4 linked regions of the Homo sapiens genome follow. The protein of the gene in region 2 interacts with the protein of the main gene of each other region in a biochemical or structural test. Each region holds a gene or a part of one and is shown on either strand. Other genes may lie near its edges. The genes, in order: PZP, MMP2, SCUBE3 and TIMP4.

Region 1 (7,811 bases), on a different chromosome or scaffold from region 2:
GGAATATTGTTCAATATCGTTCACTCATGTAAAGGAATGAAGTACTATATATATGCTACAACATGGAAGAACTTTGAAAACATCACGCTATGTGAAAGAAGCCACACAACATAGGCCACATATATTATGATTCTATTAATATGAAATGTCCAAATAGGTAAATTCATAAAAATATAAAGTAGATTAGTGTTTGCAGAGAATGCACGAATTAGTATTTCTACTTGTTGAAAATAGGAAGTGACTACTAACATGTATGTAGTTTCTTTTGGGGGTGATGGAAATGTTCCATAATTTCATAGTGGTAATAATTACATAACACCATGAGCATACTAACAGCCACTGAATTGTACACTGTAATGTAATAAATGTTATGTAATGGGAATTTGTGTCCATTTAAAAATTGTAAAAAATAGCCAACTATGGAAAAAATTTACTGGTTTTTTTTTTCAGATTCAATGTTATAAATGAAGGAAATAATTTCCTTTCCTGCAAACTTTATTGCACATTCATTCAGATTTTCTCTTTCACTGTCCCATTTCACATTCTGGAAAAATCAGATATTTTAAGACAAAACTACTCTTTTCCTCATTTGGAAAACATTTGTCCTATTATCTTGCATAGACAGTTATGTTTTTTGTCACTACTGTTTCTACCATGGCCTCAACTATACATATTAGTTATAACATTTAATGAAAGAAAATAACTAACATAAAAAAACTAGAAAAGATGATTGGCTACTTTCTTTCTTATACAGTGAATCCTAAAATGGCCTTGAAATCTGGTACCAGCTCCTCTATGATGCAGTCTAAGAGCAGTCTTGCCCTCACAGGGACCTAATGGGAGAAATGCTCACAAGTGCCCTGGTAGGCTGAACTTGGTCCCACTGTGGATCTTAAAACAGCACTGTATACTGGCTCCAGGCCCTCTCATCTGTGATTTGAGAGCAGGCCTGCCCACTCAGGGACCCAGTGGGACACATGCCCATTCATGAACCCAGAGGCAGGCCTGAAGACCTGGGTCTCAGCTGTAGGCCCTGAGGCAGCCCTGTTACTTGGTTCTCTTTTCTCTCAGCTGCAATCTGGACCAGCACTGTCTGCCTAGGAACCTACCCAGTGACCCAGTAGGAGCCCTCCTAAGGACCCAGAGGAAGCCACATTCATCCACATATCTCGTAACTAGCCTACAATCTGTGGACTCTAAAGTAGACCCTCATCCCAGTGCCAGACCTACTGACCAAGGTCTAGGAGGCAGTCCAATTTACCCAGGGAACAGACAGAATCTAAGCCTACTAGAGCCCCAGTTAACAGGCCTGCCAACCACAGACCTCACTGTTGACCCAGCAAAACCATGTGACCTGGCTCTACCTCCAGTTGACCACAATTCTGGAAGCAATCTTGTCAATCCTGGGAACCCAACAGGAGGATCCTGAGGATCTTTACCTGTAAAACCAGTCTATAAAGATGGGAAAAGGTGTTTGCTCCTTCAGATGCATAGAAACCAATGCAAAGTTACACAGATAATGATGAACCAGGCAAACATAATACCACCAAAGGAAACCAATGAAGTTCCAGTAACTAATCTCCACCCCAAATGGAGATCTACAAATTTCCCCCCAAAATTCAAAATAATCATCTTAAAGATGCTCAGTAAGATGCAAGAAAACACAGATAGACAACTAAATAAAATTAGAAAAACAATGTATGAACAAAATGAGAAGTTTAATAAAGAAATAGAAACCATTAAGAAAAAACACACAAAAATTATATAAGAACAGAACTGAATATTTTAATGGAGAGCTTCAACAGCAAACACAGTCACACAAAAGAAAGAATTAGTAACTTGAAGACAGGTCATGTAAATAGTTAATTAAAGGTGAAAAAAGAAAAAAAATTAAAGAAGAGTGAAGAAAGTATAAGGGACCTATGGAATACCATCAAGCATGCAAATACACATATTATGGGAGTCCTAGAAGGAGAAAAGAGGGAAATGAGCAGAAAGCTTATTTAAAGGAATACTGGAAGAAAAATGTAAAAGCTAGAGTATTGGTGGCAATATGGGGATACGAAAATCCTCATGCACTACTGGTAGAATTGTGGTGTGATGCAACCATTCTGGAGAGTTATTTGTCACTATTTAGTCACTTAAGTACATGCCTCTCATACAACAATCTCACTCCTGTGTATGCGTCTTGCAAGAGGATTTACCTGTCTCAAAGGGTATATGTAAAAAGATATTTATCAAAGCATTATTTCCTCATGGCAGGACAATAGAGACAATCCTGTTTTTATCATTAGGAGAGTGGAAACATTAAACCTCTTGGATGATCACCAAAGAGGGCTATACTGTAATAAAATGCAATTAATAAAATACATACATATAAACATATAAACATGGGAGGATGTTTTAAAACTAGCAATAACTAAAAAGAATAAGAAACAGGCAAGGTCTTTTTCCAATACTCTTTATATAAAATAAAAATACACACTTAAGACTTTCCTTTCCAGTAATGGTATACAAGGTAATTGAGACCAAACTTCCCACTTAAATTAGGAATGGTTGGTTATATATATATTCACTGGAGGTATTGAAAAGCAAAGACTGTGAAGAATTATGAATCCAAAGTTCAGAAGCAACATAGCAACCCAAAGGGGCAATTCTGTGTTTAAGGGCACTTTCCCCTTAGGGTATTTAACAGCTCCAGAATATTTGGCTGAGAGATTTAGAAGCACATTTTAAAGCCTTTAGTAAATAAAATTGCAGCGTCTAGAGTCCAAGGCTCATGAAACTGGGGCAAGGAGATGTTCCTGATAGACCCTTTACATATTGTGTTGAGATATCAAACTGATGGTAGAATTCAAATGGTCCATAAACATATGAAAAGATGTGTAAAGTCATTAATAATGAAAATTAAGGCAAGATACTGCTTCACTCATCAGATTGATAAAAAGTAAAATGCCTAGCAGAGTAAAACGATGGTAAATATATAATAAACTGAAAATATCCACTGTTGCAGATGGGTATTCAAATCCATGTAATACTCTGAAGAGCAATTTACCAATCTGATAGATTTCAAGATGTACATACATATATAGCCTATAACCCAATCTCTGCTATATACCCTAGAGAAAGTCTTGCAAATATGCTTAAGTAGACATACCGTATTTGTAGCAGTATTATTTGTAATGTTGAAAACTATGAAGAATCCAAAATTCAGCACTAGGGGAATAGAGTAACAGGTTCGGCCACATTCATACAATAGAATGTCGTATAGATGGTCATTAAAATTAATAAATTTTATCCTCATTATCAATGCTAATAAGTCTTAAAACCATAATAGTGATGACATATTTTACAATATGTGCATACCACTTATACATATAAAATACAAAACACAAAATTATGCTATATATTATTTACATAAATATGGATTAAAAACATAAACACATCTTGAAGAATACATATCAACTTCCTAATCCCACAACATTGGAAGGGAAATGAGATTGGAGAGAATTACAAAGGAAACTCCAACCATATTTGTCTTGATTTATTTCTTTTTTTGGGTTGGTGGATCTGGTAAAAACTGGAAAAGCTTCTAGACAAATTTTAAAAGAGCACTACCATTGCCATCTTTCATTTCTTAAGAAGAAATGACCTTAAACAAACTTGGCAAGTGTTTAATTTTATTAAAGTTGGGTGCATGTAAGGTACGAGTGTCTTTTATCTTGCTCTCTATATTTGTGAGTATATATATATATAACATTTCATAATTTAAAAGAAATTATTTCATTCTATGATAATGTGACAAAAGAAACAAAGATGTGAAATAAAAACTAATAGGAAGGAATCCACTTTCAGCAGTGTGGCCAGGAATTTGCTCTCCAAAGAAGGGATGATTAGGCTGAAATATGGAGAAAGAGAAAGAAAGTTGATTTAAAAAGTTTCAAGCAATACAGTATGTAAACAGACACCAATGTCTGCAGTCTAAGGATGGCATTAAATCTGCTGGTGGTTTATATGTGATCATCATTGTACTACAAGTTCTATGAGAGCATGGATACTGAATATCCTGTTCAATATTGTATTTTCATCACCAGAATAGCACTTAGCACACAGTATGGCTCAAAAAAAAAATCTCAGATAAAGTCAATGACATGGTTTAAGGGACTCAAACGTTAGAGTGCTCAGACAGTAACAAGGACAGATAGGATCAACTAAGAATCTGATCAGGTCAATGCTGTGAAATAGACAAGTGTGATCTTTGATAACTCCTTTCTAAAATCTCTTTGATCTTTTATCTCTTTTATCTTTCATTGATCCTCTACTCTTGAAATCCTTATTTTATATCACTTTCTTCCAGGACCATGTACTCAATCAACTGCTAAAAAAGAAAACCCAAAAACCCTAAAGTCTATAGTTATAACTCACTCAGTCCCAGAAATGAATCTGCAATGCATGAGCTACTATCATGGTAACATGTCCCTGACATTCTTTGTCAGCATCCTTTGTCACCTGCTTGTAAGGATTTTGAAAGAGATGGAGAAAGGTAGGTTGAAGGTTCCTTATCAGGAGGTTTGCTGTCAAAGCTCATTCTAAATGGAATACAAATTTTATCTTCCAGACATGCCTCAGTACCTATCAGAATTTAGCCTTGAGAAAAATGAGGCAACCACTGAGAGTAATGACCCTTTTAGGGAATCTGTGCTCAATTCTGAACTCTATTCAGAGGCCTTGGGGTGGGGCTTGTTTGTACATAGTGGCCACATAAAGCCTGGTAAACTCAGCTGGTCTCCAGGGCGAGGCTGAGGGCAGAGAGTTGGACACAACCCTGAGATTTATCCCTCACAATGCGGAAAGACAGACTTCTTCATTTATGTCTTGTGCTACTTCTTATCCTGCTTTCTGCCAGTGACTCAAACTCTACAGAACCGTAAGTCTCACTCAAGACCCCTTCCTCCAGAGTGCGTTTCAGTCTCTCCCTTGTGTCTTCGCTTTGCCTTCCTTTGTAAATGCCACCTTTCCACTCATTACAATACCTTCCAAATATAAGAAATTATTCCAGTTAATCCCTTGTTTGTCTTTCATTTATCCTCTATTCTTGAAATCATTTTTTCTACACTGGGCCAATCAGAGTCATAAATACGATTAGTCACTAGGAAGCATGATTAAATAAAACACTAGATCCCAACTTCACAGAACAGTTCTTTTGGATGGAAGGCACTGAATATAGAGATATTCGAAATATATAGTGAAGTGCAACTTAACATGTATTGTAGGCCATATATATATATACAGAAAGTATAGCTCCTTTATTTTTCAATCATGTATCAAGTCTTCACCAACAGCCCCCAGTGGGGGACCAAAGCAGGGAAAATAATTTTAACCCTATCCAGTTGTAAGTTGGTACAACTCAATAATTGTAAGACTTCTTTTCCACCTCTCCCCAGTTCCTCTCCTCTATAGTGTCTAGAGAACTGTGGTCTCCATTAACTCCTAATAGAGAAAACTGTCAGAGTCCTTGGTCTCAAAGTTCTCCGTCCTTCTTGGCTACTGTCAGTCTGACTTCTCCTTACTTGCTGGCATGCACTGTTGAAGTTTAGCCATCTGGTTTCTCTTGTGTGTTCAGGACCCAACAGTCCTCTCTAACTGACTGTCTCACTTCAGCTGTTTCATATCCCATAGAACTCCTACCTTTGCATCCTGCCTCAAATACTATGGCTATTGTTTCAACACAGCCTGTGATGCAGGGTCACCTTGCCCCTTTGCAGTCCAGGCCATTTAAGGTCCCTGGCCTTAACCCAGCTGCCTTTACATTTCTTCCAGAGAATGGTGAGAACTCTTGGGTCCAATAATAGCACATAGGCACTGAGGTGTCCTGGAGAGGTTAAACTTCTACCTCTCTCTTGCATACCCACACTGCACTTCTAGATGCCTATCGTGTCTCCTGTATTCCAGACTGATACAGGGAAGTCTTCAGAGTCCCAAATCGGGAAAGGGATAAGGGGTCCCTCTGCTCTGTGTGTTACCCTTATCCATCTAACACAAATAGCCTTCTTCAGGCCAAAGCGCAGAAAGCAGAAATAAGGAGTTCAATCCAGTAAGTCTCCTGCTTTCCTCAGGCTTTTTCCTTGCACAATTTCCTGGCAACCGGTAGGGGTACATTTCTCCCCCACTATCCCTCTACCTCATCTACAGCAGTGGGCTCTACTACTTCCAGCTGCTCTCCATCCAGAAAGCATATGGGAATATGTGGAGGCTATTTTGCTTTCTGAGAGCAGACTGAATGGATAAAGCGAGTAGCGTGTATTGGGTCAGAAACATTAAGCAATTTGTGGTTCTGGATGCATTCCTACACTACATTGGACCATGCTGCCATTGAAACCATCCTTTTACGTTGTGTCTGCCACTGAACAAAGAACAACAAGCCTCATGCCCTAGTTGTCACAAGCAGAAGGGGTGTTTTCTCCCTTTATAAGGAGAAAACTTAACTTCATCCCTCCAGAATTAACCCTTGATGTGATAAATGTGAGAGACTACAAAAGAGAACCAATAGCCATTCTCCCCTGCCTTGGGGCAGTAAGCTTCAGAAAGATGAAGGTTTCAGGGGAATAAAATGAAAAAGAGAAAATTAAAAGTTATCACTTTAATATTTGCTACATTTAGTCCCTGCTAAAGAGGCAAATATTTAAAATGCAAACATTCATGATTGAGTAAACATATATTAAAACATTTTAGCAGCTCACTACCAATGACATCTTGGGCAAGTTTGTCAACCTGGATTTGTTCTGATTTCAATATCTGTTAAAAAAATATTAACTGAACTCATATAAAATAGTTCTTTAGAATATCAAATATATGTGGAATTAATTTTTAATCGTGATATCTTTTAGGCTTATAATTTATAAGAATAAAAATAGTAAATAAATTATAAATATATATATACCTTCTTATTAAGATCAAAGAACTAAAGGAAAAATTTTTTGATGGGGATGTAAAAAATGATACATTTTTATTATTTATTATGCTGTTAAAAGAGCAGTGATCAGGAGATCAGAAGCATCCAGATACCAGAAAAAGATTAAGACATAAGAGACTAGCTGAATGACTATCAGTGAGTTACTGAACTGCCCTCAGCTTCTCTGCTAGAGAACAAAACCTTACTACTCATACAGTAAAATCATCTGAAACTTGGATGATTTCAGAGTGGCCCTGGAGATTCATGGCATATAGTTTTGCCCAGGAACACTTTAAAACACATGTAGCAAGACTGGTGTGCTGGAGCAGACTACATGGAGGATGAGGGGACCAAATTTGAGTTCCACATTCCACAACTCAATTATCCTTGGATTCTCTCCTCCTAGTCTCACACCTATTAATTTTGTAAAGCAACAATATTGGGTTTCTTGTGTCAAATTGCCTGTCCAGAAAACAATTTAAAAAGTAAGAGTTTATGTTGGCAATGGAAAGTAAGGGTAGTAAAATAATATAAGAAAATAATAGTTTTTACTTGCAAATTTACTCTATAAATGGCCTAACCCTGCAGATATTGAATCATGAATCACTGAATCATTAAAGCTTTGAAGAGTTACATTTTAGTCACAATTTACTGATTTTACTGATTTGGCATGGGGGCAGGGATTTTATCTATCTGTTATGGATTCAAGTTTTGGGGACTGATGAGGATCTCATGTTTTAGCTTCCATGAACATGGAGAGTATCATGCATGTACCTTACAGCATTGCTGGGAAGATTAAATGGCTTAATACAGAGACAGCTTAACAATTCTTGTCATGTGGCAGATGCTCAAAAACAGC
Region 2 (7,031 bases):
CTTTCCTTCTTCCCTTCCTCCAACAGGAATTTACTGAGCGCCTGCTTTGTGCAGCATACACAGAGGTTGGTCTCTGCAAAGCCCTGCCCAAGGGGGCTCACAGCTGAGGGGCATGTGCTGGTGCCATCAGCTTCATCCAACTCCCTTTGCCCCTAGCCCATCTGCCCCCTTCCATGGGAGGCTCATTAGAACTCTGGAATCTGGCTTCCTGGGTTTGAATTGCAGCTCTGATACTTCCTAGCAGTGTTGGCTTAGGGAAATTTCATCATCTCTCTGATCTATTTCCCATCCATGAAACGCGGTGCTATTCAGTCCCTCCTGCACAAGGCTGTTGTCAGGGGTGGGTGAGATGAGTCTAAAGATACAGTGCCTGGGACTGAGTCTAACTTAGGTGTGGTTCATTAAGGTCAGCGTCATGTCATTGCTTCCTGGTGGTAGCCTCAGACTCTTTGCTGCGCCTTGACCCGTATCCCTAACCCCACAGCCATGTCCACTGTTGGTGGGAACTCAGAAGGTGCCCCCTGTGTCTTCCCCTTCACTTTCCTGGGCAACAAATATGAGAGCTGCACCAGCGCCGGCCGCAGTGACGGAAAGATGTGGTGTGCGACCACAGCCAACTACGATGATGACCGCAAGTGGGGCTTCTGCCCTGACCAAGGTACGAGGCCCTGGTCATTGGACAGAGACCCTGGACATTGCCCTTGCCCCTAAACTTGCTCCAAAAACCTTCCTGAGACCTCACCCACTTCAAGCATAGACACTGCCCCCCAGACACCCACCTACCCAGACCCGCCCACCTGGGCTGAGACAATGCCCATCTCTGGTGGAGCCAAGGTCCCTGCTTAGATCCTGCCCATCCAGGTGGAGGCACAGCCTCCAAAATCAGACCCTGGTAGACCAGATGCTGCTACTCACCTCCTGGGTAAGAACTGGCCTTCCTGAGGGGTCACTGCTCTTGTCTTCCCCTTCAGCCACCCTCCAGGCGGGCTTGTGACTACCAAAATTGGCTGAATTCTGAGCACAGATTACCAGAGAGACAATTCTCCTAAGAGACATTCCCACTGCACAAAGAGGTGCCTTCAAGGAGCTGGTAGGCAGTAGAAGAAAGGAAAAAAGGAAGAGCCTCATGCTTGATCTGACACCATGGTCCACGCAGCCCTGGGGGAGCCCCCAGAGCCCTCTCTCCCCCATCAGTCAGCACCATCTGTTACCAGGGTGTAAATGGTGGGTCCTCGTCAGTCCTGGGTGCTGAGGATGGAGCTGACTGGGACAGCTCTCTGCCCCCTAGGACTCACAAGCTCAGGGGAGAGAGTGACCAGGAGACAGCTTGTGACCTTACTATGTGCTCAGTGCAGTGAGCAGGGTGCTTGGGGCCCTGTGCCCAATCTAGGCTACAGAGCCCAGGGTTGCAGGGTTGCTTAAAGCTCCCTGATGGCCCATAATGGCCAGGTCAGTGGGCAGGTCCAGGGCCTGTCAGAATTAGGCAAGCCTGTCTTTATGTTGCTTTCATTCTTTTTAATCATCATGAGATGGAACTTGGCAGATGTCAGTGGACAGAGGCTGGCCAAAGGAGGTTTTCTTATCCCCTGCTAAATTCCTTGCTAGGACACAGTCTGATTTTACCAGCTTAAAGGTGGGATTCTCCACCTTCCTGAGTGGTTCAAGTATCCAGAGCTCAGTGGCTCACCCAGGGTGAATATTATAGTCTCCTGGGGCTGCCATGACAAAGTGCCACAAACTGATGGCTTGAAACAAACCCCATGTATTCTTTCATGCTTCTGGAGGCTGGAAGTCTAAAATCACGGCGTCAGTAAGGCCATGTTCCCTCTGAAGGATGCGTCACTCCAGTCTATGCCTCTGTCATGACATGGATGGCCTTCTTCCCCCTCTGCTTGCCTCTCCTCCTTTTTTTTTTTTTTGAGACGGAGTCTTGCTCTTGCCCAGCTGGAGTGCAGTGGCATGATCTCGGCTCACTGCAACCTCTGCCTCCTGGGTTCAAGTGATTCTCCTGCCTATTTCCAAATAAGTTCACATTCACAGGTCCCTAGGGTTAAGACTTGGGCAAATCTTTTCTGGGGGGACGCATTTAACCACAACAGGGTGTGACACAGGTTTTGCTCGCTGGCTGTGGCTCAGCCTGTGCAACCACGCTAAGTGTGAAAGGTTTTTACTGCTTTCACCTGGGCAGAAATGGTGGCAACATGGGGCCAGCCTATCCCCACTCTTCTTACCTCTTCAGAGAGGCTGAGGAGCTGGGTTTGTAGAGCTCATCTTTTATAGAGAGACATAAAAAGCCAGGAAGCAGGATTTTAAAATGAATGGGGTTTTAAGTAGAAAATTCGCAGATACTACTTGTTCTGTTCCTTTATAGCACACCTGTCCTGATACTGACTTGGAAAGAGACAAGAAGACTTTGGCTGACCCCACTTGGAAACAATAGGCACTAATCCCAAAATTGTGTATTGATCCCAGAATTCTCAGGAAAAGAAAAAAAAAATCAATACATGCCGCTTCCAGGGTTCTCAGCCTTACTGTGGGGCTGTCCTCAAAAGTCTGCATCACTGGGTCAGGTCTTGACTTCTCTCTCATCTCTCTTCCTGTCTTTCAACCCTCTCTCCTCCCTGCAACCCTCAGGGTACAGCCTGTTCCTCGTGGCAGCCCACGAGTTTGGCCACGCCATGGGGCTGGAGCACTCCCAAGACCCTGGGGCCCTGATGGCACCCATTTACACCTACACCAAGAACTTCCGTCTGTCCCAGGATGACATCAAGGGCATTCAGGAGCTCTATGGTAAACCTCCGGGCGGGGGTTGGGGGTGGAGGGTGAGGAGGGGGGAGGTCATGTAGCCTGGGATGGAGGCCCAGGGGGTGGGACCAGCAAGATCTCATCCAGCCAGGAGTGCTGGAGACGAGGGCAGGAAATGGGAGTGTTGACCTGGTCTTGGGAAGGCAGAGCAGCTCTCCAAGGGGATACTTGGATAACTCTTCCCTATCCGAACAATGCTAATATCCATGTCACTCTTAGCGCTCCATTTCTGGGTTTCTCCCATTTTCTAGGTGAGTAAGGTCACCTGGTGCAAGGTTACACAGGTTTGAGCAACCCAGTGGAGTTTAGAATCCAGGAGAATAGCCAAGTACAGGACAGAATTTTCCATCATGTGGAATGACCTTAACAATACGGGGGTGGAAGTTTCTAGTTTTCATAATAAGCTTTGATTTTTAGTATGTAGTAGAAACAGAACAACCAGTGCCTTAAGCCAATTATTTATTTATTTATTTATTTATTTATTTATTTATTTATTTATTTATTGTTGGTTCTTACAGTGAGGCTAGAGTTTAAAAAGTCAGTTCATTTTTAAAAAATATTTAATGGTCCAGGTGATATCTGAGCCAGGCCAAAATAGTGAAAGTGGTGCTTGAGTGATGAAGTTTGGGGACTGCTAGACTCAGGAAAAAGCCCAAGGTCTGCCGTGAGGGGTGCTGGGTTCAAATGTGGCCTCTGCCCTTCACTAGCTGCAAGATATTGTGTAAGTCTTTATACCTCTTTGGACTCAGTTTCCTCATCTCTAAAATAATTGCTTATCATGAAAAGTGCCATACTGTCAGTTCTGGACACACCAGCGGCCCCCTGACCGCCCTGACTCTTGTGGGCATAAGAATCTGAGCTTTGGGTTTGAATCCTTGGGCAAGTCACTCAACTTTTCTGGGCCTCAGTTTCCTCACCTGTGAAATGGTGCAATCATGATACCCCACTCCCAGGGCTATAGAGAGGACTGATTTGGGTGATGTCAGTAAAAAGCATATATAAAGTACAAAGGGCCCCAGGACTCCCCAAGTCCAGGCATCTTCTTGTTACCTTACGGAGCTTACACTAAGGCCAGAAGGCGATTTCTTCTGACTCTTAGATGGTTGGGTGGGCACCCCTGGGGGCTCACCCTAGTGGGGAGAACCTCTGGAGCTGCAGAGAGTCTAAGGTCAGGTGTTCTCCCCAGGGGCCTCTCCTGACATTGACCTTGGCACCGGCCCCACCCCCACGCTGGGCCCTGTCACTCCTGAGATCTGCAAACAGGACATTGTATTTGATGGCATCGCTCAGATCCGTGGTGAGATCTTCTTCTTCAAGGACCGGTGAGTGCAGGAGCTTGCTTCTTGTCCTCCTTGTCTCCTGTCCTCTGCTCTTATACCATTATTCTTTTCCCTCACTCTTCGCTGAAGACTCCGCCAAATGCTTCCCAGAATGACCTGAATTAGGCAGTTTCTGCTGTGTATCAAACAACCTCCAGGTTTCAGTGGATTTGCACCCAAGCATTTTGTTTGCTCTCTCATAGTCTGTGGGTCTACTAGTTATCTTGACTTTCAGCTACAGTTTGGGTTCAGGTGTGCTCTGCCTGTTGTTCTCATGGGATTAGCAGCTACTCATGGCAGATGACAGGGTGCAAGAGGCCAAACTGAACTACACAAGCTCATTTAAAGCCTCCACTCACATCTTGTCTGAGAATATTCCACTGCCTGAAATAAGTCACATGGCCAATCCCAAGACCTACCCTAGAGGGTAGTACTGCAAAGTCACATGGAAATGCATATGAATGCATAATCCTAAAATCAAAATGGAGGGAAGAATTGGGAACCATAATTCAGTCTACCACAGGCCTTCTAGAATGGCGTTGCCCTCAAATGGCCAAATTACTCTGTGTATGGGTGGTGAGTGACTGCAGAGTAGAAAGAGGTGGTATTCTTCATGCTATAGATAAAGATCACCACTCAGTTGACTAAAGACTGAGGTTTACCCTAATGCCCTAGTTCCCTGGAGAATGGCAGGCAGTATCTAGGACCTCATTAAAGGGTCTGTCCTTCCATTCTTCTATCATCCATCCATCTACCCATCCATCCATCCATACCTATATCTTTCCATCCATCATCCATCCAGCCAGCCAGCCATCTATTATCCATTATTTATGATCCAGCCATCCATTATTCATTATTCATCCATTTATTCATTCATAGAGTATAGTAGTTGAGAAAATGGACTCTGAAGCCAGATTCTCTGGGTTAGAATTCTGTAACTGCTACTTACTGGTTATGTAATCATAGACAAGTTAATTAAGTATCTTCTTTGTACCTTGGTTTCCTCATTTATAAAATGGGGCTAATATTCCAACCTATCTCCTAGGGCTGTTGTAAGGATTAGATGAACTTAGTGCTGAGAACAAAAACAATGCCTGACACAGAGTAAGTGTATTCATATTAGCTATTGTTATTGACAAATAATTGTTTGGCATCTACTGTGCCAAATACTTTGCTAGGCTTTAGTAGCTGGAGGAGGAAGAATGATGTTCTCGGGACAGTGGGGTGGGGGGCTGCTAGATCAGTGTTCTCAAAGACAGGCGCATGGGCCTCCTATAACAGAACCATCTAGAGTGTGGGTATTAAAAGGTGGGTTTTCTGCCCCAGCTTCAGACCCTCCTGACTGGAACTCTGGGGCTAGGCCCCAGGAATCTGCGTTTTAGCAAATTCTCCCAGTGATTCTGATGCACATTAAAGTTTGTGCATCACAAGTCCAGTTTGAGAAATAGGCATGGAGAACTGACATGGCAAGATGAAAGAAAAGTGATCGCAGAGGTGTTAGGTGCTTTTGTGAGCACGTCCCAGTCAAGGAAGGCTTCACAGATGCAGCAGCATTTGAGCAGAGCCTTCAAAGGAGAAGCAAGAATCTGATGGGGGTGACAAGTTAGGAGGTTCTTTGAGACAGAGGGACCTGCAGAGCCAAGCCATAGTGATGTGAAAGTTTCTGGATTAGCCAGTGAGAATCTGGTGAGGCTAGAAGATGTTCCATAAACTTTCAGGAAGAGTTTCCTCTACTCTAGGCACTGGGCCAAATTCTGGGGTGCAGATGCCTTGCCCTTCACAGGGTCTGCTGGCCAATGGGGAAATGGCAAGAATGCAATGAGAGATGAGACTTAGAATGTAGTGAGAAATCAGGTCCCGTCAGGCCTCGAATGCCCAAATCAGGATATATAACAGCAGATGTCAGCACTGCTCTGCAGTTCCCATTGTAAGGATCTGGCAATGTGCTTCATCTGGAGCTCCTCCCACTAAGAAAGCCCTGACCACACATGCAGATCTCAGATGTGTGGGGCCTAGGAAAGGATGCAGAGCCCAGACCCAGGCTGGAGCCATCCCTGGCCTACCACATCACAGTTTTCTTTCAAAAGGAACGTGATGAGTGTTTAATGGGTTTATTTGATTAACCAGTAAATATTAAACTTCAACCATGAGCAAAAATTGCTGCTAGGCACTGGTGAGGGTGGGGGTCATGAAGGACAGTATTGCAGGGTGATTAAACTCAGACTTTGGAGTCAGATCTGGATATGAATCTTGGTAATAACTAATTTATTTAGTCATTGATGTAGTGATAACTAAGTAATTTGAATCCTAACCTCTCTGAGCTTCATTTGCTAAATAAAAATTGTGACACCTTCCTACGCTAGGATGTTTTTCTGCAAATAACAGAGACCATCCCTCTGCAAACTCAATCCAGCCTAAACAGTAGAGAGAAATTGCTTTCATTTGGTACAAAGTCCAGGGGTAGAGCTGCCTGCAGGGGCAGAGAGAGGGTCAGTGACTTGATGTCTTTGTCCACTGCTAGCCTCTGCACTTACTTCATCCTAAGGCCGGTTCTACCTCATGGTCACAAGAAGGTTACCAGTGGCAGTTGGGGCTCTAATCCCTGCCCTCTCCCAGGAAGCGAGAGAGAAAGAGACACGCACAGATACACACACACAGACCCCCAGATGTGAAATACAAGTCTGTGTGTTCCGTCTTTACACCACTGTAAGTCATATGGCAACTGCTGAATCAGTAACAGTGCTAGGGAATGCTAAACTCTGATTGGCTTAGACCAGTAGTTCTCAAACCTTGGCATGCGTTAGAATCATCTGGAAGGCTTGTTAAAACACAGATTCTGGGCCCCAAGCCCAGAGATTCTTATCTGTAGATCTCTGTAAGGACCCAATCATTTGCATTTCTAATGAG
Region 3 (7,000 bases), on a different chromosome or scaffold from region 2:
CTGGTGTCCACTGCACCTGCCCTGTGGGCTTCATGCTGCAGCCAGACAGGAAGACGTGCAAAGGTAAGGACTTTGAGAGGACAGAAGCAGAGTGACCTTTGGTAAGGGGCTGAGGTTGGGACCAGAGATAGGGTGCCTATTAGGGGATGACACCTCCTCAACCTCCTTCTTATGAAGAACCCAGGACATAGCTAAGGGTTGTCTCCTATCTGCCTGTTTCATCTCAGTTCAAGGGACAGAGAAGTCCAGCCAGTTCCTTAGTGCCCCCTTCCCCTACCCCACCTTGTTTCCCTACTCTCATTCCTATCCCCCATGGGTCCCTAACCCTCTTAGTTAATGGACATGCGATTCACATTTGCTCCTGGGTCTGGAAGGATATTTGAGCCCTGACTGTGTGTGTGCATGAGGTCACAGGTGTGTTCCATAACCTTCTTACCCCACATTCCTCAGACCTTCCCAGTGGGCTCTGGGGAAATGATGTCTACCCCTCGAAAGGCTGTACTGGTCAAAGGGAGAGTAGGATACTAGTTAGGAGGACTGAAGCTGGGTTCAGATCCCAGCCCTGTCTCCTACTAGCTCTGTGATCCTGGACAAGTCACTTAATGTCTCTGTGCCTCAGTTTTCCATAGTGCTCGCCTCATACTGTGTTGTGATTAAAAGAGTGATTACATAAAAAGTACTTAGAACAGTGCTTGGCAAATGGAAACACTTTGTGTTAACTGTTATTACAGTATAGTTACCCACATTATGCATTCTGTTTCCCTTCCTTTTAATTAGCCAGGTCTGAGGGAGAATGGGGGGAAAGGGTGGAGGAAAAAGGCAGGGTAGCCATACTGAAAATGATGATTCATTAGGTCCATATCCCCTGGTCACAAGGAGTGGGGACGAGGAGGACTGGGCTCGTTCTTTGTGTCTTTTGGCCCAACAGCTGCGAGAGGAGGGGGGAGGCTAGGGCAGCAGGTCAGCCAGCCAGAGTTGAGAGGTTTCCTGCTGGGAAGAACTGTTGACAGGTATGCTAAGAGTGAAGTGAAAGGCTGCCCTCCCTGCCCCTTCCCCCAACCAGGGGTGAGTAGCCTGGGTCCTGTCTGCCACCAGCTTGGGGAACTTGACCTCAGGAAGGAAGCCATTCACCAGCCCCCCTTTCCCTTACTAGTGCTGAAAGCTGCCTCAGGCCTGAGTCTCTCCAGATCTCTCCCAGTCCAGCCCCTTGCCTGGCCCCCAGCCCTCCCCCATCAGCTACCCAGCCTCACTGGCTCTCCTGGAGGTCCTCCCTGCCTGGCCTCTTTCCCAGCTCCTCCTCCTCCCTAAAGGGCTGCCCGTTTTCAGTGAGTCCCTTTAGACCCTCCACCTCTCCTTGCCCCGCACCCCCCCAACCCCCCGTCCTGAGGGACAGGAAAGAGATAACCCTTACCCACCAACCTTTCAGGGAATGGCCATCAGCTGGAGACTAAGGGCTAGCCTGTTAGGTCAAATGCCCACCTGCCCCTCCTCTAGGTAATTCCCTGAGGGCCTGTTCCTAGTTTTGGTTCCAATTTGTCCCCTTATAAGAACACTCAATCCCAGAAGAGAGGGTGTTACTAATGGCCACAGATCCCCTGAACAGGGAAGAAACAGAGACAGGAAAGAGAGAGAGAGACAGGAAAGAGAAAGAGAAAGAGACAGAGAGAGATCAAGAAGAGGCAGGCCCAGGACTCCTTGATTTTTGCATGTCTCTGTCAGTGAGGGAGGGATCTTTCTCCTTGTTTGTTCTCAGCCTTTGATAGTATCTTTTATCCTGTTTTGTCCTCCTTCTTCAGATATAGATGAGTGCCGCTTAAACAACGGGGGCTGTGACCATATTTGCCGCAACACAGTGGGCAGCTTCGAATGCAGTTGCAAGAAAGGCTATAAGCTTCTCATCAATGAGAGGAACTGCCAGGGTGAGCAGACTCAGCCAAAGGTGAAAGCCTTAGGAGAGGTTCTTGTGGGAGAGCTTCAAGGAGGCCAGAGGGCTAAAGTCTTAGAAACTCAATAGATATCACACAGAGTCTCTAGAGGCAGTGTCATCCTGCAAATTAGCAAATGGTACTCTTTCCCCTCAGCGGACTAGCTCCATATCAAAGCATTCAGCCTGGCAAGGACTGAGGGATGGATTTCACCCCAATTCATATCCTTGGCAGAGTAGGACGTACCTAACCACACATGGTGGGCCCTGACCTAAAGGCACCAGATCTTGCAGTTCCTAATTCCAAGGACTTCAAATAGAGGGGGCAGAGAAGATGGAATGGCATTGTTAAATCACTGGTCCTAGAGCTAGGACATGAATAGGAACTCTTCAGTTCAAGGGGGAAAGCCAAGGCCCCTCACTTGGGTCCTTCACCTGAGCAAGGGTCAAGTGCTCCAAGACAGATTCAGTGGCTTGAATCTTTGCTCTTCCAGATATAGACGAGTGTTCCTTTGATCGAACCTGTGACCACATATGTGTCAACACACCAGGAAGCTTCCAGTGTCTCTGCCATCGTGGCTACCTGTTGTATGGTATCACCCACTGTGGGGGTAAGCTAGTAAGCTTGCACCCCCAGCCACCCTGGCCCCCTCACCTCTTCACCCTCCAATTGAACAGGTCCTTGTGTTGGCTTGTGGCTATGGGCAATCCCTGGATGCATGCACCATGTCTGCATCCGCTGTGACAAAATAGGAGGAATTAAGACAGCTTTTGAAGAACTGGGAGACTGCGGAAACAGCATCCTGCCTCCAAAATTCCTATCTCCCATTCCTATAACTGTCCCTGAACCCCCACTCTCAGCTCCCAAATGACAGTCTCACTGGTTGGGAGGAGTGGAAGGCTTTAAAAAGCTTGTTGGCTTGGCCCCTTCTCGATCATTCCTTTGGGGACAGAGATAATTGGAGGAGGTTTGAGCTCTTCTCAGGCCAGTAGTCATCTTACAGTGCCTAGAATGCCTTTTTAACTTTTTTAAATTGTAAGAATATTTAACAAGAGATCTACCCTCTTAAGTTTTTAAGTGTACACTACAGTATTTATGTGCCTATAGGCACACTGTTGTACAGTAGATCTCTCGAACTTATTCATCTTGCGTAATGCAGGGTACCTGAAACTCTAACCAAAGGCCCTCACTCACTGCCTACTCTCCGGCTCCTCCTCCAACTCCATCGTTGTTTTTCTGTCTCCCTACTCCTTCCCCCAGATGTGGATGAATGCAGCATCAACCGGGGAGGTTGCCGCTTTGGCTGCATCAACACTCCTGGCAGCTACCAGTGTACCTGCCCAGCAGGCCAGGGTCGGCTGCACTGGAATGGCAAAGATTGCACAGGTGGGCAGTGCCCTCTGCTGGCCAAAGATGACACTGCCATTTCAGGGAGCAGTTGGGGTTCTGGAAAGCATAGAGTATCACATTGGGGAAAGGTGTGAGGTGGAAAGGGTGGAGAATGTAGCCATTTTGAGTTAAAGACATGAAATTTGTAGTAAACAATCCCATCATCAGTCTCCATGGGTACAACAATAGTTATGCAAGTAGCTGATTCCTCCAAATTACCCAACTGAGGGAAAGGAATGCATTCATTTGCTCAGGCCTCTCTCCCCTTCCTAGAGCCACTGAAGTGTCAGGGCAGTCCTGGGGCCTCGAAAGCCATGCTCAGCTGCAACCGGTCTGGCAAGAAGGACACCTGTGCCCTGACCTGTCCCTCCAGGGCCCGATTTTTGCCAGGTACATGGGAGGAGGGTGCTGGAGAGCTTTGGAGGAGAAAAGAGGAAGGACTGGCCGTTCAGGCAGCTCCTTCATTCCCCCTGGATTCCTCCAGCCAGCGGGGGTTGGGAAGGCAGGTCAGAACTGTGACAGGCTCCTTTTCTCAGAGTCTGAGAATGGCTTCACGGTGAGCTGTGGGACCCCCAGCCCCAGGGCTGCTCCAGCCCGAGCTGGCCACAATGGGAACAGCACCAACTCCAACCACTGCCATGGTAAGCACCAGCCCAGAAGCCCTGTTCCCACCCTACTCTCTTACATTAATCCCTTATTTTTGTTCTTCATCAATCCCCTGGCCTTCCTTTCTCCTGGATCCTCTTTTTTGCCCTGTAATTCTCCAACCCTGCTCCCTCACTCCCTCTGCCCTAACATCTGATCCCCTTGACTTTCATAATCTCACTCCCCCAGCCAAGCCCCTGGCTTATTACCCAGCTTCTCAACAACCCCTACGGCACCCCCGACCTCCATGGGCATCCCATACTGTGCTGAGTTTCTACCATCCCTCTAGAGGCTGCAGTGCTGTCCATTAAACAACGGGCCTCCTTCAAGATCAAGGATGCCAAATGCCGTTTGCACCTGCGAAACAAAGGCAAAACAGAGGAGGCTGGCAGAATCACAGGGCCAGGTTTGGACTGGGGACCCCATTCCAGTTGGCTGTCTGGCCACTAAATCCTCCTTACCCCTCAGCTCCTCTGCTTCCAAAAACCCACCAGAACCCTGAACTCTAGGCAGAGCAGAGGAAAAAGCAGCTGTAGGCATAGCACCCAAGGAAGTCCCAGAATATTCCCCTCCACCAACTAATTAGGACCCTAGACTAAAACAGGATTGAGAGATAGTTACAGTTAGAGATCTGGGGAGGTCTGTCTGGGCTGGGAGTGAGAACTTTCCAGGGGATGTCCCTGGGGTTGACAAGCCCTCTCTCCCAGGTGGTGCCCCCTGCTCTGAATGCCAGGTCACCTTCATCCACCTTAAGTGTGACTCCTCTCGGAAGGGCAAGGGCCGACGGGCCCGGACCCCTCCAGGCAAAGAGGTCACAAGGCTCACCCTGGAACTGGAGGCAGAGGTCAGAGCCGAAGAAACCACAGGTGGGACTGGGGGCACTGTTGGGAAGAGGACTGGAAGGGGAGGGCAGAGGTGGGGAAACCACAGGTCTCAGCAGCAAAAGGAAGGGATGGAGCCTGTACTAGGGGCAGACCCTGCCTGGTGCCAAGCCTAAAAGCTAGTCCCTCTTACCATGCCCCTCCTAGCTCCCAGCTTTGCTCCCCTGCCCTCCTGCTCACAGCAACTCTTTCTCCTCCCTGATACACACGGCCATCCACCACCAGCCAGCTGTGGGCTGCCCTGCCTCCGACAGCGAATGGAACGGCGGCTGAAAGGATCCCTGAAGATGCTCAGAAAGTCCATCAACCAGGACCGCTTCCTGCTGCGCCTGGCAGGCCTTGATTATGAGCTGGCCCACAAGCCGGGCCTGGTAGCCGGGGAGCGAGCAGAGCCGATGGAGTCCTGTAGGCCCGGGCAGCACCGTGCTGGGACCAAGTGTGGTAAGGGAGCTTACTGGGGAGCAGGGATGTAGGAAAGACCCAGTTTGGGCCTGACTCAGAGCAGGACCCTTTGTGGCCTCAGATGCATTTCTCAAATTATGAGGCAGCCAGGATGCTCCTGCCCGCTGTCCTCCCTTCCTTGGTTCCAGGCTGAAATCTAGAAGGATGCCAGGTGGGGCCAGCAATCCTCCTGCACACGGTTTTGACCCTCCTATCCCCCCAAGTAGGATTGTGTTTGTTCCCTGACAGAGATTCTCCCTGAATCGGGGGTTGTGGCGGGGAGTGGGAAGGGGAGTCCCAGGCCTGGGTGGTGGGAAATGCGGGGGTGGGTGGCTAGCGCGGCCGACTCTCCCTCAGTCAGCTGCCCGCAGGGAACGTATTACCACGGCCAGACGGAGCAGTGTGTGCCATGCCCAGCGGGCACCTTCCAGGAGAGAGAAGGGCAGCTCTCCTGCGACCTTTGCCCTGGGAGTGATGCCCACGGGCCTCTTGGAGCCACCAACGTCACCACGTGTGCAGGTGCCAGGGGAACAAACAATACAGAGTGGGGTAGGGTGGGCACTGGGATGCCCATGGGCATGGGATTTCCCAAAGGGCAGGCCCAGGCTCCAGGCCACTCTCTTAGTCAACATCCTGTTTGTATACCTTTGTCCCCTGAGATCGGGTGACCCCATGGGGATGACTCAGGACCATCCCCATCAGAGTTGGGCCCTTGATTCATTGCAGGTCAGTGCCCACCTGGCCAACACTCTGTAGATGGGTTCAAGCCCTGTCAGCCATGCCCACGTGGCACCTACCAACCTGAAGCAGGACGGACCCTATGCTTCCCTTGTGGTGGGGGCCTCACCACCAAGCATGAAGGGGCCATTTCCTTCCAAGACTGTGACACCAAAGGTGAGTAAGCTACTCACCTCCCTGGGGGATGCCCCAACCCCAACTACTCCCAAAAAACTCTCCAATTTCCCAGAGGGGACACTGACCCACCATTTTCTCCAAACCAGTAATGGGCCCAGCTACTTGACCAACCATACCATCCTGCTTCCAGGACCCACCCTGCCCCTCCACTAGTCCCAAGCTTGGGAACTGAGAAATAATTAACAGTCCCACTTACCCCTCCACTTTGGAGAACTGGTGGCATATTCTCCTCCATATCCCAAATGAGTTTCTATATAGGTTTGGCACTGTGCTCAGCGTCTGAAAGAAAAGGATTGGCACTGTAGCCAACCACTCTGTAAACTCTGTTTTTCCGTGGGCTTAAATTCTGGCATGACTGGGAAAGATTGAGACCCTAGAAAAGAACTTTGATGTATCTGATCTCCTGATTCTCCAGGATGAATGTATCCTGTCCATCCCATGCCCCGTAACTCCCACCTGCCTACCATCTTGATTCCTGCCCTTCTCCCTTGCCTACAGTCCAGTGCTCCCCAGGGCACTACTACAACACCAGCATCCACCGCTGTATTCGCTGTGCCATGGGCTCCTATCAGCCCGACTTCCGTCAGAACTTCTGCAGCCGCTGTCCAGGAAACACAAGCACAGACTTTGATGGCTCTACCAGTGTGGCCCAATGCAAGAGTACGTGGCAAGCCAGGCTGTGCAAAAGGGAGGAGAGAGGCCTGGGAGCAGTGGACATCTAAAGGAGGGGTGTGAAACCAACAGGGAGCAGGGCTGGGGGGTGGAGGAGCAGGAAAACTCCACCTTCCACCTCTCCCCAACTCA
Region 4 (6,984 bases), on a different chromosome or scaffold from region 2:
TGCCTCTTCCATCCAGGAGCTCCTCAGTTCTGTACAATTCCACATCCTCAGAGCTAGGAAGCCCTTATCATTGTAGCCTCCAGTGCCTATGACTCATCAAGAGCCATGTCTGGACAGTGAACTCTTTTAAGGACTGTGCCTTGTTACTGAATCTCCACTCTCCTGGCCAAGGCATGGCAGTGACTAAGTGGTCATTCATTGCTGAATGTGTGGATAGATCGTGGAATCCCTTCACCTGTTCCCTCCCCCACTGCTGTGCTTTTTCTTTCCCTTGCTTTCTTTCTAAATATTGTTTTATGTTTTCAGGCCAGTTTAGATCCCACCTACACAATGAAGCTTCCCTGATAGTTCACAACTACCAAATAGTTCCGTTCTCTGAACTCCAAAATAATTTAATGTTGCATTCATTTATGGAGTCATATTTTTGTGTGATTCTTTAACTGTTCTATCCCAGCCAATTCAGTATGGAGGAATCCTGCCTGGGCCCAAGTTCACAGAGACAGAACTATGTTAGACTCAAGCTCCTGTTAAGTCCTGTGCAAAAGGCAGAGTTGACCTGCAAGGAGCAGTTTTAGAGAGGAGACTTCGACTCAAGTTGCCAAAAATCTTATACTAATTTAAACTATTTGAAAAACGGAAGCAGCTGCCCTACACTGGGTGAGCAGCCTGTCCTTAAAATAGTGAAACGGTGGCCAGGGTCACTGTACTAAGAACTCTTACATTTAAAGGGAGGTTACAAGGCTCCTCCTAACCCAGAGGTTGTCTGTCACTAACACAGCTCTGTTTTATGCCCAAGAAAATGCCACCTGGCTCAGCCTACTGCCCAAGGAAGACCCTGGCTCCTTTCTCACTACCTCCCCTAGGGCAGAATCTATTATATTAAGGCCAGTTGTTGGTCTTTTAACTTACCAGTCAAGAGATACTGCTTCTGGCTGTTGGCTTCTAGTTTCACACCACAGAGGGAAGAGTCAAAAGGCGTATAGATATACTGAACATCCTTGACTTTCTCAAACCCTTTGAACATCTGACAGGCAATTACAAAAAAAGGCAATATTGGGTCAGTGAGTGTACTGTATATATTAACAGACAAAAACCTCTCACTTCTCAGCCTAAAAATGTAAGCAAAAGTCTAGTTGAGGATTTTGTGTCCTCAGATGTCCCTACTGGGTTATTTTCTCTCTTAAAACAAAACAACAACAACAAAAAACACCTAAACCTTGGTTTATTCCAGTAGGTACCTGTAGTGGCACCATACACCAGCAGCTGTGGGACCAGATGGATGCTGAGGCCCTCCCTGGCAATATCCCTGGGATTCTATGGGCTCTGCCTCCAAATCTCATCCAGTTCCACTTCAGTATCTAGACCCAAGGATTACTGAGCCAGGCCACCTGAAAGCTACCAGCCCTCCCAGAACACAGACTCCACTTTCTCCATCAGCCTTAGGGGCTACACATCCCAGCCTGCCCCCATGTACCTTTATCTGTTTGATTTCATACCGGAGCATTTTTTCAGTGTCAGCAGGGTCTGCACTGGCCGGAACTACCTTCTCACTGGAGATTTTGGCCCGAATCACTGCATAGGAAGAGAAAAGAGGGAACCTTCAGCAGCTGGTGGGGGCAATACACCTGAGGTCTGGATGATCCAGGGTCCATGAAGAAGTCTATAGGGCAGTTCTTGGTTTTGGTGTGGCTGGGTTGTGAGCAACGTGATGTGTGAGAAGGGGGACCTGGAAACACCTCCCCTGCAGTCACTGGAAGTTCCAAACCCCTCAGGCTTATTAGGTCCTATAACCGCTAAGCTGTTTCTGCCTTTTGAACCAGTTAGTCTGGAGAGCTCTAGTTCTCCATAGCCGTTTGTGCAGTGGGGCACAGGGTAGGAGTCAGAGTAGAGAAGGGAGGAGGAGCCCCTTCAGGGCAGTCGGTGTGAAGTTTATCTATTGCTGTGGTCAAGGCCTCTCATCCCGCCTACAGTTGATATTAGTAAATGTTTATTGAATTCATAAATGTTCTGACCCTGCACTGAGGTATTGCATCTCTTGCCATTTGAGCATTAATAACCAAAAACTGTTGATGATGTTCTTCCTCTGTGCCTGGCCTTGCACTAGGCACTAGGCCCATAGATGTGATTAAGACAGGGTCCCCATCCTGCCGAGCTCTTGATCTAGTGGAGTGCACACGTGTAAAGAACAACAGCACAGCATAGTAGGAGCGCTAAGACGGTTAGAGATGCTGAGGCGGCACCAAGGAGCCCGGGAGCCTGCAGAGAAGGGGAGAGACCTAAGTTAGCCCTTGAAGGATGAGTAGGAGTCTGCCAGGAATTTAAGGGTGTGAGGGAGGGCATTCCAGGCAGAGGGAAGAGAAAGGACAGAACGTGTGTGTTGCCATAGGGGCTTGGTGGCAACCTCAGTTATAGGCCTGGACAGACACGGGTAGTTACAATGCAAGCCCTCTCCCCTCCCCTTTCTGTCCCCAGTCTAGTAGTTCAGAATAATCATCAGATAGCTCCGGTGACACCTTGTGTAATGACACTCCATAATTGCAGTATGGCCGGAGTGAGGGAGGTCGCTATGGAAGTCCCTGATGAAATCTTCATTTCCTTATGAATCAGTCAGGTTCTGGGCTTGCAAGGTTGCTATGGCGCCTGGTCCTTCTCCACCCATCAGCCTCAGCAAGAGACAACCGGTAAGAATTTGAGCTCCTCCCTTTTCCTCTGGACTCCTGGTGTACTGCTGGCCAGATACTAATCCCCCACAACCACCCCCTGCTGTGGACCTCGCGGACCTCGGACTCACCAAGTGCCGAGTGGCAGATGTGCTGCTGAGGGTGCGCCGGGGCGCAGCTGCATGCCTCACCCAGCCCCGGGGGCCGCAGCAACGCCAGCAGCCGCAGCAACAGCACCCAGCTTGGCGCGGGCCGAGGGCTCCCAGGCATGACACTGCAGATCCGCGACTGAGCCTGTGAGGTCTGGGGGACTGGACGGCCCCAGCAGGGCTCCTTCCCAAGGCCGTTGTGCCCCTCGCCCCAGGCTTTATGAGGTGGCCCTAAGGGCCAATCCCGCCCCGACGGGCTCCGCCTTCCTTTGGCTCTAGGCCACCCGCGGAGGCAGGACCCGAGGCTCTTCCGACCTGCATACTCAGTAAGATGCAGAGGGAAGCCTGGAAGGAGGCCCTGACCTCTGTTTCCCTGCCTAAGTCATGAAGCGATCTGGAAGCAGAGGGGAAGCACTGGGAGAGGGGATGGTGTCAAGGGCAGAAAGACGGAAAGAGCCACAAAGACAAATGCATGAGGACAGAAAAACTGAGGGCTGTGATTCAGGCAGAAAGAACAAGAGTGAGGAGAGGCACAGACAGAAAGAGTGAGACAGGCAGAGTCCCAGAGAGGCAGACAGAATTACAACAGGCAAAAGAGACAGTGACAGAGAAGGACGGACCCCTTGCTGAGCTGCACGCTGGGAATGAGACGAGCTACTCAGGGCTTCTTTCAGCTGCAGGAAGTGCTTTCAATGCCCTATTTATGAGGCTCCAAAGCAACAGCAAACAGTAATAGAACAGGACAGAGAAAGTTGGGGTGTGTGTGTCTTGGCTCTGTTGCCTGGGGGGTGGGGAGAGATGTCAAAGAAGCAGCCAGTGCTTTAGAAACCCTTTCTCACTCCCAGAGCCTCAGACTCTCCAGATAGCTGGAGACAGCGCTCTTGGTGTACAAAACACAAAGTGTCCCATCACTTAGGGCAAACCTTGGACCTCAAAGCCCTCTCGAGGCCCTAGACTACATTGATTTTTATTGCATGTCCCTTCTCACTGGAGACTCTGTCATGTTCTAGAAGGTGGGACAGCTTAGAAAACAAAGAAGCAGGCTGGGCGTGGTGGCTCACGCCTGTAATCTCAGCACTTTGGGAAGCCAAGGCGGGTTGATCACCTGAGGTCAGGAGTTCGAGATCACCCTAGCCATCATGATGAAACTCCGTCCCTACTAAAAATACAAAAGTTAGCCGGGCGTGGTGGCCTACACCTGTAGTCCCAGGTACTCAGGAGGCTGAGGCAAGAGAATGGCTTGAACCCAGGAGGCGGAGGTTGAAGTGAGCTGAGACTGTGCCACTGCACTCCAGTCTGGGCGACAGAGTGAGACTCCGTCTCAAAAAAAAAAAAAAAAAAAAAAAAGTAAAAGAAAAAACAAAGAAGCAGGGGACTTGGGGGTGACTGTGACCAGAGCCTTGTCTGCTGTTTGGGCACAGTGTTGCAAGCCTCCAAATCCCAAATCTCCATGGGATTATTGCTGTGGGATGTTTCCACATGGTGCTGGACTGGATAGTGGGAGGCTGGGTTCCAATTCTGACTGTCACTGTAGCTTTGTGACTTTTGCCTCTCTGGGCCTCAGTTTTTTCTTCATAAAGTAGAGTTGAACTACGTGATTTCTAAAGCCCTTTGAAGTTCTTCTTCCCATCCTTGGCTGGCCTCAACCAGGAATGCTGAGATCCTCAGGCCAGATACCCCCAGTATCTGTTCAAATCTTAGTTCCCATAGGAGTCTGACTTTTCATCAGGGTCAACATTATTTCCTTCAAAGGATACCTTTTCATTTTGATGGTGTTAGTGATATTTGAAAAGAAGGGAATTGAAAGAGAGCTGAGTCTGACTGAAAGATGAAATGCCCGGGTTAGCATCCAGGCTGGTTCTTCATACAATGTTCAGACCAAGATAGAGGCTGATGTACTATTTGAAGGGAGCTCAGAAAGCATCCCATCTGATCTCTTCATTGGACAGATGTGAAGGCTGAGGCCCAGTGAGATACAGTGACTTGTAGAAAGTCCGTGGCAGAAGAGGACTAGAGTACTCGTCTCCTGACATCTAGCCCAGTGCTCCTTCCACTCCACAATATTACTTCTTACATCACCATTTTGTAGCAGCTTGAAATCTTGCCCTTAGAGGATAATCCTTCTTTTAAGGTTTTGTTGCTCCTCTGTTAAAGTATGGCTACCTCAGTGTAGAGTTCGCTCCCCTAAGGATCTCTCTGCATTTATAAACATACTGAATTCTTCTACCGGCTCTCTTTCAAACCCCAAGCTGGGAAGAAATGGGCCTTCACATGCAAAGCCTTGTTTGGTGGTGAGATTGGGGTATTGGTGAGCAGTGAAGAGTGTGAAAGAGGGAGAAAACAACCAGGATCATTACAGGAAAGCTGGGCCTTTGAAGGTTGTAGGTACCAAGAGGGTACATGCTGACAGGGACATCAAGATGCCAAAGATGTGTTTTTAAAATAAAAATACAGGTTTATTAAAGTACATCTACATATAGTAAAGTTCACTCTTTCAGAGATACTTTCTTTTTTTAATTCTCTTTGTCTGAGGGCCAGTCCTGCCCAGGTTTTGTCTAATGCAGAGAAAATTGACAGTGCATTTTAAAGATGTAGGGTATACCAAATAAGAGTACAGGGTTCTTGTAGCACTGCCACTAATATGCTCTGTGACCCTGGGAACTCACTGTCATTCCATGGGTCTCAGTTTTTTAATCTGTAAAGCAAGTAGATTGGACTAGTTCTTTAAAGAACCCTCCCAAGGGTATTCCCAAGAAAAATATGTGTAGGATTCCACGGAGAGATGGGCACACTCTGACAGTTTATTCATTTCTCTTCTGATTTCAGCTGACACTGCCCACGTTCCCTGTGGTGGTGAAGATTGGCCACGCTCACTCAGGCATGGGCAAGGTGAGGCAGAGAGGCCTGCTGTGCTTCAGGGTTGAACCAAGAAGGGCAGTTTTCAGAGCGCCCATTTGTGAACTGCTATTCTCCCTCTGTCACTGATGAATTCTTTCCAAAGAGAAGATGATTTGCCACCTCTAAAGCCATGAGTGTCACCCAACCAGACCTCTTTCAGTAAGCAGAATGCAAGCCACCTGCTTGGTCCTCTGGGTCCTTTGCAGCAAGTGTGGCCCTTGAGTTCTGGGAAGGGAAGCTAGGGAGAAGGGGCCTCCTGGGGAGATGTGGCACCCAGATTAGTGTCTGGATCGGATACATATTGGTGGGTTTGGAGGCTCAGGGCCCTTGTGACTTCTCAGTGTGTGTATGTGTGTGTCTCCCTTTCCCCCTTTCTGCCCTGCTCTAACATTAGGTCAAAGTGGAAAACCACTACGACTTCCAGGACATTGCCAGCGTGGTGGCTCTCACCCAGACCTATGCCACTGCAGAGCCTTTCATTGACTCCAAGTATGACATCCGGGTCCAGAAGATTGGCAACAACTACAAGGCTTACATGTGAGTAAGAGTGGGGTATGTTTTCTCCTCAGTGATGATGGAAAAGCTGAGCCTCCACATTGCAGCCAACTCTCAGATAACAGAGAGGGTGCCACTTAAGTCAGAGATTTTTTTACCTGGGTTCCTTTTAAGTCAGAGGAGGGGTCTGTGGACTAAGATGAGAAAATATATTAATATTCATTTTCACTTGCCTCTAAGGGAAATTTAGCTTTCTCTTCATTTTGAACAGAGACGACAGACTACATTAGTTACCTGTACATAGGAGTTTGTCACTAAAGGTGATTACTGATTTTCTTAGATCTTAGATCTTATAGTTGAGACACATATCTCTATGGATTATTCTCATTCCTACTTTAAAATAATGGTACTTGTTAGGCTTGCCACTACCTCCTGTTACTTAGAAACACATATTTTACTAATCACAGATTTGTTTAATATTTTTGATAACTCTAATTGGGTAGCTCTGGGATCCCATGTACTCTATCTTATACAGTTACACATCTTATATATTGTGTTCATTGGAAGGAATCCATAGGCTTCCCCAGACTGCCACAGCACAAAGTTAAAAAGTTCCTGGTATAAATATCCAGCACTGAAAAATGCTACAGAACATTAAAAGCCCAGTGCATGACTTCTCTGTAACTGTGTCCATTTGCCAGGATGGAAAGTTAAAAATTTCCTGCATTAGAATTTAGTAAAGGAAAAGATTTCAAAACTACCTGACTTTCCATAATACGCAT

What was found.
Region 1: the proteins of MMP2 (region 2) and PZP form a complex in vitro, tested with the Homo sapiens proteins (one study listed by BioGRID).
Region 3: of the proteins of MMP2 (region 2) and SCUBE3, one has a biochemical effect on the other in vitro, tested with the Homo sapiens proteins (one study listed by IntAct).
Region 4: the proteins of MMP2 (region 2) and TIMP4 form a complex in vitro, tested with the Homo sapiens proteins (2 studies listed by BioGRID).

Annotation. Positions count from the first base shown.
Region 1 is NC_000012.12:9,205,375-9,213,185, reverse strand, and holds the start of PZP (pregnancy zone protein precursor), read left to right. Parts: upstream 1-4,790; 5' UTR 4,791-4,844; coding exon 4,845-4,927; intron 4,928-7,811. UniProt on the Homo sapiens protein: Is able to inhibit all four classes of proteinases by a unique 'trapping' mechanism. This protein has a peptide stretch, called the 'bait region' which contains specific cleavage sites for different proteinases.
Region 2 is NC_000016.10:55,489,167-55,496,197, forward strand, and holds part of MMP2 (72 kDa type IV collagenase isoform 1 preproprotein), read left to right. Parts: intron 1-484; coding exon 485-658; intron 659-2,634; coding exon 2,635-2,790; intron 2,791-3,991; coding exon 3,992-4,127; intron 4,128-7,031.
Region 3 is NC_000006.12:35,237,956-35,244,955, forward strand, and holds part of SCUBE3 (signal peptide, CUB and EGF-like domain-containing protein 3 isoform 1 precursor), read left to right. Parts: coding exon 1-63; intron 64-752; exon of another isoform or gene 753-1,796; coding exon 1,797-1,919; exon of another isoform or gene 1,920-2,418; coding exon 2,419-2,535; exon of another isoform or gene 2,536-3,185; coding exon 3,186-3,311; exon of another isoform or gene 3,312-3,587; coding exon 3,588-3,704; exon of another isoform or gene 3,705-3,850; coding exon 3,851-3,955; exon of another isoform or gene 3,956-4,248; coding exon 4,249-4,365; exon of another isoform or gene 4,366-4,666; coding exon 4,667-4,825; exon of another isoform or gene 4,826-5,065; coding exon 5,066-5,281; exon of another isoform or gene 5,282-5,638; coding exon 5,639-5,800; exon of another isoform or gene 5,801-6,007; coding exon 6,008-6,175; exon of another isoform or gene 6,176-6,475; intron 6,476-6,694; coding exon 6,695-6,856; intron 6,857-7,000. UniProt on the Homo sapiens protein: Is a positive regulator of the BMP signaling pathway, required for proper chondrogenesis, osteogenesis and skeletal development. It acts as a coreceptor for BMP ligands, particularly BMP2 and BMP4, facilitating their interactions with BMP type I receptors.
Region 4 is NC_000003.12:12,155,911-12,162,894, forward strand, and holds the start of TIMP4 (metalloproteinase inhibitor 4 precursor), read right to left. Parts: upstream 3,003-6,984; 5' UTR 2,931-3,002; coding exon 2,792-2,930; intron 2,682-2,791; coding exon of another isoform or gene 2,580-2,681; exon of another isoform or gene 1,982-2,579; intron 1,573-1,981; coding exon 1,475-1,572; intron 1,025-1,474; coding exon 910-1,024; intron 1-909. Other genes in the region: SYN2 (synapsin-2), read left to right, coding at 5,636-5,698, 6,102-6,244. UniProt on the Homo sapiens protein: Complexes with metalloproteinases (such as collagenases) and irreversibly inactivates them by binding to their catalytic zinc cofactor. Known to act on MMP-1, MMP-2, MMP-3, MMP-7 and MMP-9.